Homo sapiens: one gene and its partners. The protein of the gene in region 1 interacts with the protein of each later gene in a biochemical or structural test. Each region holds a gene or a part of one and is shown in the gene's direction. Other genes may lie near its edges.

Region 1 (3,651 bases):
ATTGGAGGTGAATCTGGCCCTCCCAAACTTCCAGTCCATTCTGCTCCCAGGGGAACCGGGAAACTGCGGGGGAACTGGAAGGGAGCTCCCAGAACAAGGATCCAGAAGATTGGCATCTGGGGCCTGGGATTTAGGTTTCTAAATCGTGGGCCATGGGGCAGCCTTATCTCTGCAAAAGCATTGAGGGTAGAAGTCAATGATTTGGGAAGTTATTGAATTAGGGGATCTCGGAGGTAGGCTGTCAGTGCCTGATAGTATCAGTTAGAATGCCTGACTTGGGGTGACAATGGCTTGGAGGGGTGGGTGAGTCAAGGGTCAAATGAGTGCCCGTGAGTCATGATGCCTGCCTTGTACAATTGATAACTGAACATCGGTGAGTTAGGGCCCCAGCAGTTGTAATTAGCACCCCGGGTGTCAGCCAGAAACCAACAAACAGCCAAATCCCTGCAGCCCCGCCCAGCCTATCCACCGGCGGGGGACCGATTAACCATTAACCCCCACCCCTCCCCGGCAGAGCCTCCACCCCTTCACAGAGGCTAGGCCAAGACTCCCAGCAGATCTTCCCAGAGGACGGTTTGAAAGGAAGGCAGAGAGGGCACTGGGAGGAGGCAGTGGGAGGGCGGAGGGCGGGGGCCTTCGGGGTGGGCGCCCAGGGTAGGGCAGGTGGCCGCGGCGTGGAGGCAGGGAGAATGCGACTCTCCAAAACCCTCGTCGACATGGACATGGCCGACTACAGTGCTGCACTGGACCCAGCCTACACCACCCTGGAATTTGAGAATGTGCAGGTGTTGACGATGGGCAATGGTAGGTGGGGGCAGATGTGCCCAGGTGTGCCAGTGGGGGCAGGTGTGCCTGGGTCCAGGAGCAGATCTTTGGCACTCAACTTTGGGGTGGGAGGAGAATGATACAAAATGGTAGGTTGGTCCTACAGGCCAGCACAGGTGTTGCCAAGTGAAGCCCATGTGCCCAGGCACAGTGATCACAGGCATTCTGGGTGAAGGGAGGCCTGCAAGGGCCAATTTCCAGCAAAAGTCGATCCCGGCTATTCCTCCCAGGCCCTTCCAGTCCTCACTGCCTCACAGTGGCTCTGCTTGGCGCTTGGCACAGTGACGTGATGGTGAGCTCCCCCTTGGTGCCCAGCTCCAGCGATTCAGCCCAGCACGGCCCCTTCGTGAACCCCTTGGGCCTAGGTTCAGAGAGACGGCAAGGGATGTTGTATCCCTGGAGATGGTGGTTGGAGACATAACCGCATTTCTCGGTGTCTTTGGGACTTTCCTAGGGAAATGAAATTGGCACTTAGGGAAAATGGAGCTCTCAGGGAAGTTTTGCTAACTACGAAGCCAACTCAGCACTGTGTGTGTTGTGTGTGCGTTCGTGTGTGATAGTGAGTTTCCATGTAGGTTGTATGGGTGGGGTGATGCCTTCAGGAACCCATTTGCATATGTGTGTTCATTTGTCTCTGTGTGTGAGTTCTGGGTCTATTTTCCTTTGTATTCATTGAGTGGGTCTGTGTTTGTGTCTTAGGAGTTGCCCGTGTTGATCTTGCTTATGTATGTAAGTGTGTATGTGTGTGTACTTGTGTCTGTGGATGTTTGTACATGTGTGCTGTGTGTGCGGGTCATAGAGCACATGCGTTTGTGCATGCGGACCTGTTGGAGTGCCCTGTTCTTCCTGCATCTTTATCCTGTATGGGCGTTTTGTCGTGTGCCCATATTTGTACCTGCTGTGTATATATGCAGTTCCCTGTGCTGCGGGCGGGGGTCAGCGGTCTCTGGTGTGCACGACTGCACAGACCCAAATGCAGGACTCTGTTGTTGCCACTCACCAAGTGAGATTCATATCAGCAACATGTCCGTTTGTCTCTGAGCAGATTTTGTTGCCGCTGCGTCTCGCCAGATTGAGGCATCCCCTCCGACATCACTGGAGCATATCTGGAGGGGTGGACAGTTCTCCACAGGGAGGTAGGGGAAAAGAGGAGGCCCGGAAACCCCTCCTGGAGGGAAGAGCCCCATCGGTCCCAGGCCAGCCTCAGAGGAGAGGGGGCAGGCAGCTGGCTGAGGTCAGCCTGCCACCCTGCTTCCTTCTGTGTCTTGGAGCCACTCAGCCAGTATGAGGCTGCAGCTCCAGCTGAGGTCTGGAATCTTGTGGTCAGCTCAGCTAGGGTGAGGAGGCAGCTGCTGGGCACTGCTTGTTGTCAGCTCAGCAGGTGCTCACCTGCCCCTGCCGTCCAGTCACGTGTGACCTTGGGCATGTCACCTCCCCTATCCTGGCTTCTGTATCTTCTACAAAACAGGCTTCATTCCCCCAGGCCTGCTGGCTGGACGGCTTTTAGGCCTGTCTGAGGACCACGCCAGGAGCGCAAGGCAAAAACACACCAGAGATAGCAAACAAGCTGCTGCTGCACTAGGTGGAGTGTTGTGTGGCCCCACGAGGACCACTGCCCTGCCCTGGGCTGCTCCCCGCCCCCATCACTTTTTCCAAGCCCAGGAACTGTGTGCTCCTGAGGCAGAGGCCAAGCCCCTGAACTGGGAGTCCCAAAGACAAGACCACCTCCAGCTCTGGAACCAGAAAGATCTGGGCTCAAATCCGGCATAGATCCTTCCAACCTGTGTGAATGTGGCAAGGCAATTTCCTCTCTGAGCCTCAGTTTCCTCACCTATAAAATGGGAATAAATAATAGTGTCTGTCTCCCAGGGCTGGCCAGAGGATAAATAAGATGAGGTGCCTGGGTGCTTAGCCCTGGTAAAGGGCCTGGCCCCACCATGGGTCATCTCAAGGGCTCTGAGCATCTGTAAGCAGGGTCCCCACATTCCTCACTGGAGTTTGAAGTGGTCTGAATTGGGGTTATGTGAAGTTGTCCTCTGAAGTGTTTTGAGTACATCCTGGGCTGGTGTCTGAAAGGCTCCAAGGATATTTCTCCCCCGTCCTCTCCCCACCCCAATGGAGCAGCAGCCCTGGGTGGCTCCTTGTTCATTAGAGGCCCAGCAGACACCTCAACATGTGTGGCACTGGCTGGAGTAGCCCAGCAAGCCTGGACCATAAACCCATGGCTCTGCTTCACGGGAAGCAGTGCGATGACACCAGGAAGCCACTTTTCCTCTCTAAGCCTCAGTGTCCTCATCTGTGGAATAGAGGTGCTCGGCTGACCTCAGAGGGGAGATGATAGAGCTGACAGCCCCCAGCCCATCCTGCCTCAGAGGTGGGAGCTACTTCCCCAGCCTCCTGCTGAATGGCCAGGAGCTGTGGGGGTCAGCTCTCCCCGGGGGTCGGGGGAGGAGAGGCCGAGGGAGAAAGGGCACCCACGTGGCTTAACAATTATCCCCATCTCCAGGAATAATTCACCAAGTGGAGGGGGCTGCACTCCTGGGGACACCTGGGAGTCTGCGATGGCAGAAATGAGATGCGGCAGTGTCTGCTTGTGCAAGGAGCCTGGAAGTCCTCTGCTCCGAGAGTTTTCCTATGTGGAAAAGTTTTTATTTCATGAACACTGATATAGTGCTTACTATGTGCCAAGCACTTCACATACACATATGAGAATTCACCGAATCCCCATAACGAACCTAGGGGAATATCACGTTCCCCATTTTACAAGTGAGGAAACAAAAGCATAGAGAAGTAAACGAACACAGTCAATGTCACACGGCTAAAAAG
Region 2 (3,651 bases), on another chromosome or scaffold:
TCTTTTTTTTTTTTTTGAGACAGAGTTTCACTCTTGTTGTCCAGGCTGGAGTGCAATGGCGCGATCTGAGCCCACTGCAACCTCTGCCTCCCGGGTTCAAGCAATTCTCCTGCCTCAGCCTCCTGAGTAGCTGGGATTACAGGCATGTGCCACCACGCCCAGCTAATTTTGTATTTTTAGTAGAGACAGGGTTTCTCCATGTTGGTCAGGCTGGTCTCAAACTCCCAACCTCAGGTGATCTGCCTGTCTCAGCCTCCCAAAGTGCTGGGATTACAGGCGTGAGCCACTGCACCCAGCCACCATCTACCACTTTCTAGCTCCATGAGGGCTCTTCTCTCTGAATGCTGAGGGAAAGCTCTGGAGACAGGTAGTGGGGGTGGCTCCCCACAAGGCCATGTGGGATTACTGGCAGGCAGATAACCAGCAATGCCAAAGGGCAAGTGTACAGGGCCCCTCGGTGGCAGCAAACCCAGGAACATCAGGGGGTTGAAGGCAGCTCTGTCCACATTGGCCACCCTGGTGCACTGGACTCAGCACTGAAACCAATGGCTGAGTTGGCAGTGAAGTAGTTAATCTCATGGGATGTGGGGGCAGGCAAGTGACCTCAGACCTGATCAGTCTTCTCCTCTGTACAGTGGGAATAACAGCAGCTCCCACCCCACAGGGTGAGAACGAAGCATAGAAAATACTCAGCAAGGGGCTGGTCCCTTGTAGCCCTAGGTGGTGGTTAAAAGGACAAGTCCATAATGCAAGAATCTGTCAGGCTGCGCATTTAAGATTTGAGCACTCAGTGTATCTCCTATATTTGTTTTTGGGGTTTTTTTATTATTACTTTTTTTTTTGAGACAGGGCCTCACTCTGTCACCCAGCCTGCAGTGTAATGGCTCAGTCACGGCTCACTGCAGGCTCTATGTCCCGGGCTTGAACAATCCTCCCACCTCTGCCTCCTGAGTAGCTGGGACTACAGGTGCATACCACCACACCTGGCTAATGTTTTTATTTTTTGTAGAGGGTTTTGATGTTGTCCAGGCTGGTCTCGAATTCCTGTATTCAAGCAATCCCCCCAACTCGGCCTCCCAGAGTATTATTATTTTTTTGAGAAAGAGTCTCACTCTTGCTCAGGCTGGAGTGTAGTGGTGTGATCATAGCTCACTGCAACCTCAATCTCCTGGGCTTTAAGCAATCTTCCTGCCTCAGCCTCCTGCTTAGCTGAAACTGCGGGCATGGGCCACTATGCTCAGCTAATTTTTTAATTGTTTTATTTTTTGTAGAGATTGGGTCTTGCTATGTTGCCAAGGCTGGTCTCTAATTCCAGGCCTCAAGCGATCCTCCAACCTCGGCCTTCTAAAGCACTGGGATTACAGGCATGAGCCACCGTTCCCGGCTCTCCCTATGTGTGTGTGTGTGTGTGTGTATATATATATATATATATATATATATATATATATTTTTTTTTTTTTTTTTTTTTTTTTTTTTGAGACAGAGTCTCACTCTGTCGCCTAGGCTGGAGTGCAGTGGCATGATCTCAGCTCACTGTAACCTCTGCCTCCCAAGTTCAAGAGATTTTCCTGCCCCAGCCTCCCAAATAGCTGGGATTACAGGCATGCGCCACCGTGCCCAGCTAATTTTTGTATTTTTAGTAGAGACGGGGTTTCACCATGTTGGCCAGGCTGGTTTCAAACTCCTGACCTCAAGTGATCTGCCTGCCTCGGCCTCCCAAAGTGCTGGGATTATAGACGTGAGCCACCATGCCCGATCGCTCCCCATATTTTCTTTTCTTTTTTCTTTTTTTTTTCTTAGACGAGTCTTGCTCTGTCACCCAGGCTGGAGTGCAGTGGTGCAATCTCGGCTCACTGCAACCTCAGTCTCCCGGATTCAAGCAATTCTCCTGCCTCAGCCTCCCAGGTAGCTAGGATTACAGGCACACATCACCACCACGCCTGGCTAATTTTTTTGTTTTGTTTTGGAGACAGAGTCTCGCCCCGTCGCCTAGGCTGGAGTGCAATGGCATGATCTCAGCTCACTGCAACTTCTGCCTCCCGGGTCGAAGCGATTCTCCTGCCACCATGCCCGGCTGATTTTTTTGTACTTTTAGTAGAAACGGGGTTTTACCATGTTGACCACGCTGGTCTTGAACTCCTGACCTCAAGTGATCTACCCGCCTTGGCCTCCCAAAGTGCTGGGATTATAGGTGTGACCCACCGTGCCTGGCCTCATTTTTTTATTTTTAGTAGAGATGGGGTTTCGCCATGTTGGCCAGGCTGGTCTCGAACTCCTGACCTTGTGATCCACCCACCTTGGCCTCCCAGAGTGCTGGGATTACAGACGTCAGCCACCTCACCCAGCCTCTCTCCCCATATTTTATACCTCAATTTAGAAAATAATAGGCTGGGCACGGTGGCTCATGCCTGTAATCCCAGCACTTTGGGAGGCCAAGGTGGGCAGATCACCTGAGGTCAGGAGTTCGAGACCAGCCTAGCCAACATGGCAAAACCCTGTCTCTACTAAACATACCAAAATTAGCTGGGCGTGGTGGCAGGTGTCTGTAATCCCAGCTACTCAGGAGGCTGAGGCAGGAGAATCATCTGAACCTGGGAGGCGGAGGTTGCAGTGAGCTGAGATTGTGCCACTGCACTCCAGCCTGGGCAACAAAGTGGGACTCCATCTCAAAAAAAAAAATAATAATAATTAAAAAAAATAAATTGGCCGGGCATGGTGGCTCACGCCTGTAATCCCAGCACTTTGGGAGGCCGAGGCGGGTGGATCACGAGGTCAGGAGATCGAGACCATCCTGGCTAACACGGTGAAACCCCGTCTCCACTAAAAAAAATACAAAAAATTCTCTGGGCGTGGTGGCAGGCGTCTGTAGTCCCAGCTACTCAGGAGGCTGAGGCAGGAGAATGGCGTGAGCACGGGAGGCGGAGCTTGCAGTGAGCGGAGATTGCGCCACTGCATTCCAGCCTGGGCGACAGAGGGAGACTCCGTCTCAATCAATCAATCAATCAATCAGTCAATAGATAGATAAATAAAAAATAATAATAGCTGACATTTATCTGGCACTATCATCACACGGGGCCACTGTTCAACTCCCTTTGTCAAGATGAACTCATTCATTCCTCAAAACCACCCCACTTTACAGATGAGGAAAACTGAGGCCTAGAGAGGTGAGATCAGTTACCCAAAGTCACAGAGTTCATCAGAGACCAGGCTGGGCTCTGAACTGGATCTTGACCCCAAGTCCTGGCCCTTAGCCACTTTGCTGGGCTGTGTCTCAGCAGAGACGAGAATGACTGTTTTCAAGCCTGTTTCCTGGGTTGTTAAGTGGAGACAATGGATACAAGGCAGGTTGCCGAGTGAGTCAGATGAGACAGTGTAGACAGCAGCCGGCACAGGGTCTGCCGGGGAAGTTTCAACATTAGCCAGGCGGTGATGTTCACCTTGGGATACCATGGGGCCGAGGAGTGGGCATCGGGCGAGACTTCCCTTGAACCAGCTCTGGAGCAATGCCCTTGCGATTGCCACGGAGAGGAACAGGGCCAGCTGGGGGCCAAGGTGACAGCTGAGCCCCCCAAGGGCACCTGCTACCCGAGCCCCCGAGGCCTCCATCCCAGGCCCGGCCTCCCCAGAGAAGGGGCCAGAGGAACAGCCAAA
Region 3 (2,554 bases), on another chromosome or scaffold:
TGCAACCTCCGCCTCCTGGGTTTAAGCAATTTTCCTGTCTCAGCCTCCTGAGTCTCTGGGACTACAGGCGCCTGCCACAACGCCTGGCTAATTTTTGTATTTTTAGTAGAGACGGGGTTTCACCATATTGGTCAGGCTGGTCTCGAACTCCTGAACTCAGATGATCCACCCGCCTTGGCCTCCCAAAGTGCTGGGATTACAGGCGTGAGCCACCACGCCCAGCCTGTTTTTCTGAGACACGGTTTTGCTCTGTTGCTCAGGCTGGAGTGCAGTGGCACCATCTCGGCTCACTGCAGCCTTGTTCTCCTAGGCTCAAGCAGTCTGCCTCAGCCTCCCGAGGAGCTGGGACTACAGGCGTTGGCACCACACCCAGCTAATTTTTGTATTTTTTGTAGAGATGAGGTCTCGCTAGTTGCCAAGGCTGGTCTCAAACTCCTGGACTCAAGCGATCCTCCTGCCTCGGCCTCCCAAAATGCTGGGATTACAGGTGTGAGCCACTGTACCTGGCCTCCCTTTGTGCTCTTGATCTCAGGGTCTTCTCTGGGCTCTCCATGTACCAGTTACCTCCGATGGGTGAAGGTCGGGTTGGGGCATCCCCGGGGAGCACCACTTTTGCACTCGGCAGGCTGTTTCCCAGCGCTCCATCTGCTCCGTCCCACAGCAGACCGATCCATGAGCAGCTCCCTCTCAGCCTCTCAGCTCCACACGGTCAACATGCGGGACCCTCTGAACCGAGTCCTGGGTGAGTTCCCCACCCCTGCTGCCGAACCTGGGGCTAAGCTGGACGAGTCTCTCTTCTCATGGAGGCTGGGAGACCTTGTCAGCTGGAAGGGGCCTTGCGGTGCCCCTCCCTTCCCTCTCCATGCCCCTCATTGTTGGCTGTCCTGGCCCCCAGGCTCCTGTCTAGTTCCCCCTCCTCCCCTCCCCAATTGCCTTTTATATTTTCTCTCTCTGACACCCCATTTTGGGGACATGCTCAGCATGTGTTTCTTTTCCCTTTTCAGTCCCACCTTCTCCCAGAGTGTGACCTCACCCACTCTCATGGAACTCCCTCCTGTCACTCTCCCCCCACTCTCTACAGCCAACCTGTTCCTGCTCATCTCCTCCATCCTGGGGTCTCGCACCGCTGGCCCCCACACCCAGTTCGTGCAGTGGTTCATGGAGGAGTGTGTGGACTGCCTGGAGCAGGGTGGCCGTGGCAGCGTCCTGCAGTTCATGCCCTTCACCACCGTGAGTACCACCTTCCCGGCTCTCCTGCTGGTGCTGGGGCCTCGGGGCAGCCCTTAGAGCAGGGAGGGGCCTCCTTCCCCCTGGGACAGCACACCCACCACCAGCCGTCCCGCAAGCAGCATCTGTCTGTCCGTGGCAGGTGTCGGAACTGGTGAAGGTGTCAGCCATGTCCAGCCCCAAGGTGGTTCTGGCCATCACGGACCTCAGCCTGCCCCTGGGCCGCCAGGTGGCTGCTAAAGCCATTGCTGCACTCTGAGGGGCTTGGCATGGCCGCAGTGGGGGCTGGGGACTGGCGCAGCCCCAGGCGCCTCCAAGGGAAGCAGTGAGGAAAGATGAGGCATCGTGCCTCACATCCGCTCCACATGGTGCAAGAGCCTCTAGCGGCTTCCAGTTCCCCGCTCCTGACTCCTGACCTCCAGGATGTCTCCCGGTTTCTTCTTTCAAAATTTCCTCTCCATCTGCTGGCACCTGAGGAGAGTGAGCAGCCTGGACCACAAGCCCAGTGGTCACCCCTGTGTGCGCCCGCCCCAGCCCAGGAGTAGTCTTACCTCTGAGGAACTTTCTAGATGCAAAGTGTGTATGTGTGTGTGTGTGTGTGTGTGTGTGTGTTTGTGTGTATTTTGTAATATGTGAGGGAAATCTACCTTCGTTCATGTATAAATAAAGCTCCTCGTGGCTCCCTTTGTGACTGTGTGTGCTGTTGGTATTGGTGCCACCCGGGGCAGGGCATAGTGTCCTCTCCCTGGACTCCTGTGCTGTGGCCAGGGAACGGCTCACTCCTGTGGTGAGGAGGAGGAGGAAGAGGAGCAGAGGCGGCAGGGCTCAGGGTCCTATGTGGGCTTGCTCAGCTGGGGAAGGGCCAGGGGAAAGCAGCTTCCCTTCCTTGGAGCCAAGTTGGCTGGCCTGCTGCCCCCTCCCCCAAAGCCAGCTGTACCCTGAAAGGGGAGAGGCTTTGGCTCAGGGCCCCACAGTGCTGGGGCAGGGTGGCCTGCTCTGCTGTCTCCCGAACCTGGTCCAACACCACCCACACTCTGACTAGCCTGGGATTTGATCTGTTGCCTCCAAAAAAGGACTGGGGGATGGGAGGCGGGGGGATGAGGGGCCGGACCTTTCTTTAACCCTTCCTTGCCTGCCTCACACATCTCTGAGCCCCTAGATGGATGACTCCGAGCTGGCAGTGGGAACTTCTGACCCTGCTTTCCGAGGAGCCACGGGCAGGGGAGGTGGGAGGGACTGAGGAGCTGAGGAGGAGAAGGTTTGGGCAGATAGTGGACTGGGGACTGGTGGGGGTACCCCAAAGCCACACAGGAGTCTTTGGCTGCAG

What was found.
Region 2: of the proteins of HNF4A (region 1) and PRKACA, one has a biochemical effect on the other in vitro, tested with the Homo sapiens proteins (one study listed by BioGRID).
Region 3: the proteins of HNF4A (region 1) and MED24 form a complex in vitro, tested with the Homo sapiens proteins (one study listed by BioGRID).

The regions. Positions count from the first base shown.
Region 1 is NC_000020.11:44,400,684-44,404,334, forward strand, and holds part of HNF4A (hepatocyte nuclear factor 4-alpha), read left to right. Parts: exon of another isoform or gene 1-689; coding exon of another isoform or gene 690-804; intron 805-1,870; coding exon of another isoform or gene 1,871-1,961; intron 1,962-3,651. UniProt on the Homo sapiens protein: Transcriptional regulator which controls the expression of hepatic genes during the transition of endodermal cells to hepatic progenitor cells, facilitating the recruitment of RNA pol II to the promoters of target genes. Activates the transcription of CYP2C38.
Region 2 is NC_000019.10:14,107,763-14,111,413, reverse strand, and holds part of PRKACA (cAMP-dependent protein kinase catalytic subunit alpha), read left to right. Parts: intron 1-3,023; exon of another isoform or gene 3,024-3,429; coding exon of another isoform or gene 3,430-3,651.
Region 3 is NC_000017.11:40,018,461-40,021,014, reverse strand, and holds the end of MED24 (mediator of RNA polymerase II transcription subunit 24), read left to right. Parts: intron 1-661; coding exon 662-742; intron 743-1,081; coding exon 1,082-1,230; intron 1,231-1,369; coding exon 1,370-1,486; 3' UTR 1,487-1,911; downstream 1,912-2,554. UniProt on the Homo sapiens protein: Component of the Mediator complex, a coactivator involved in the regulated transcription of nearly all RNA polymerase II-dependent genes.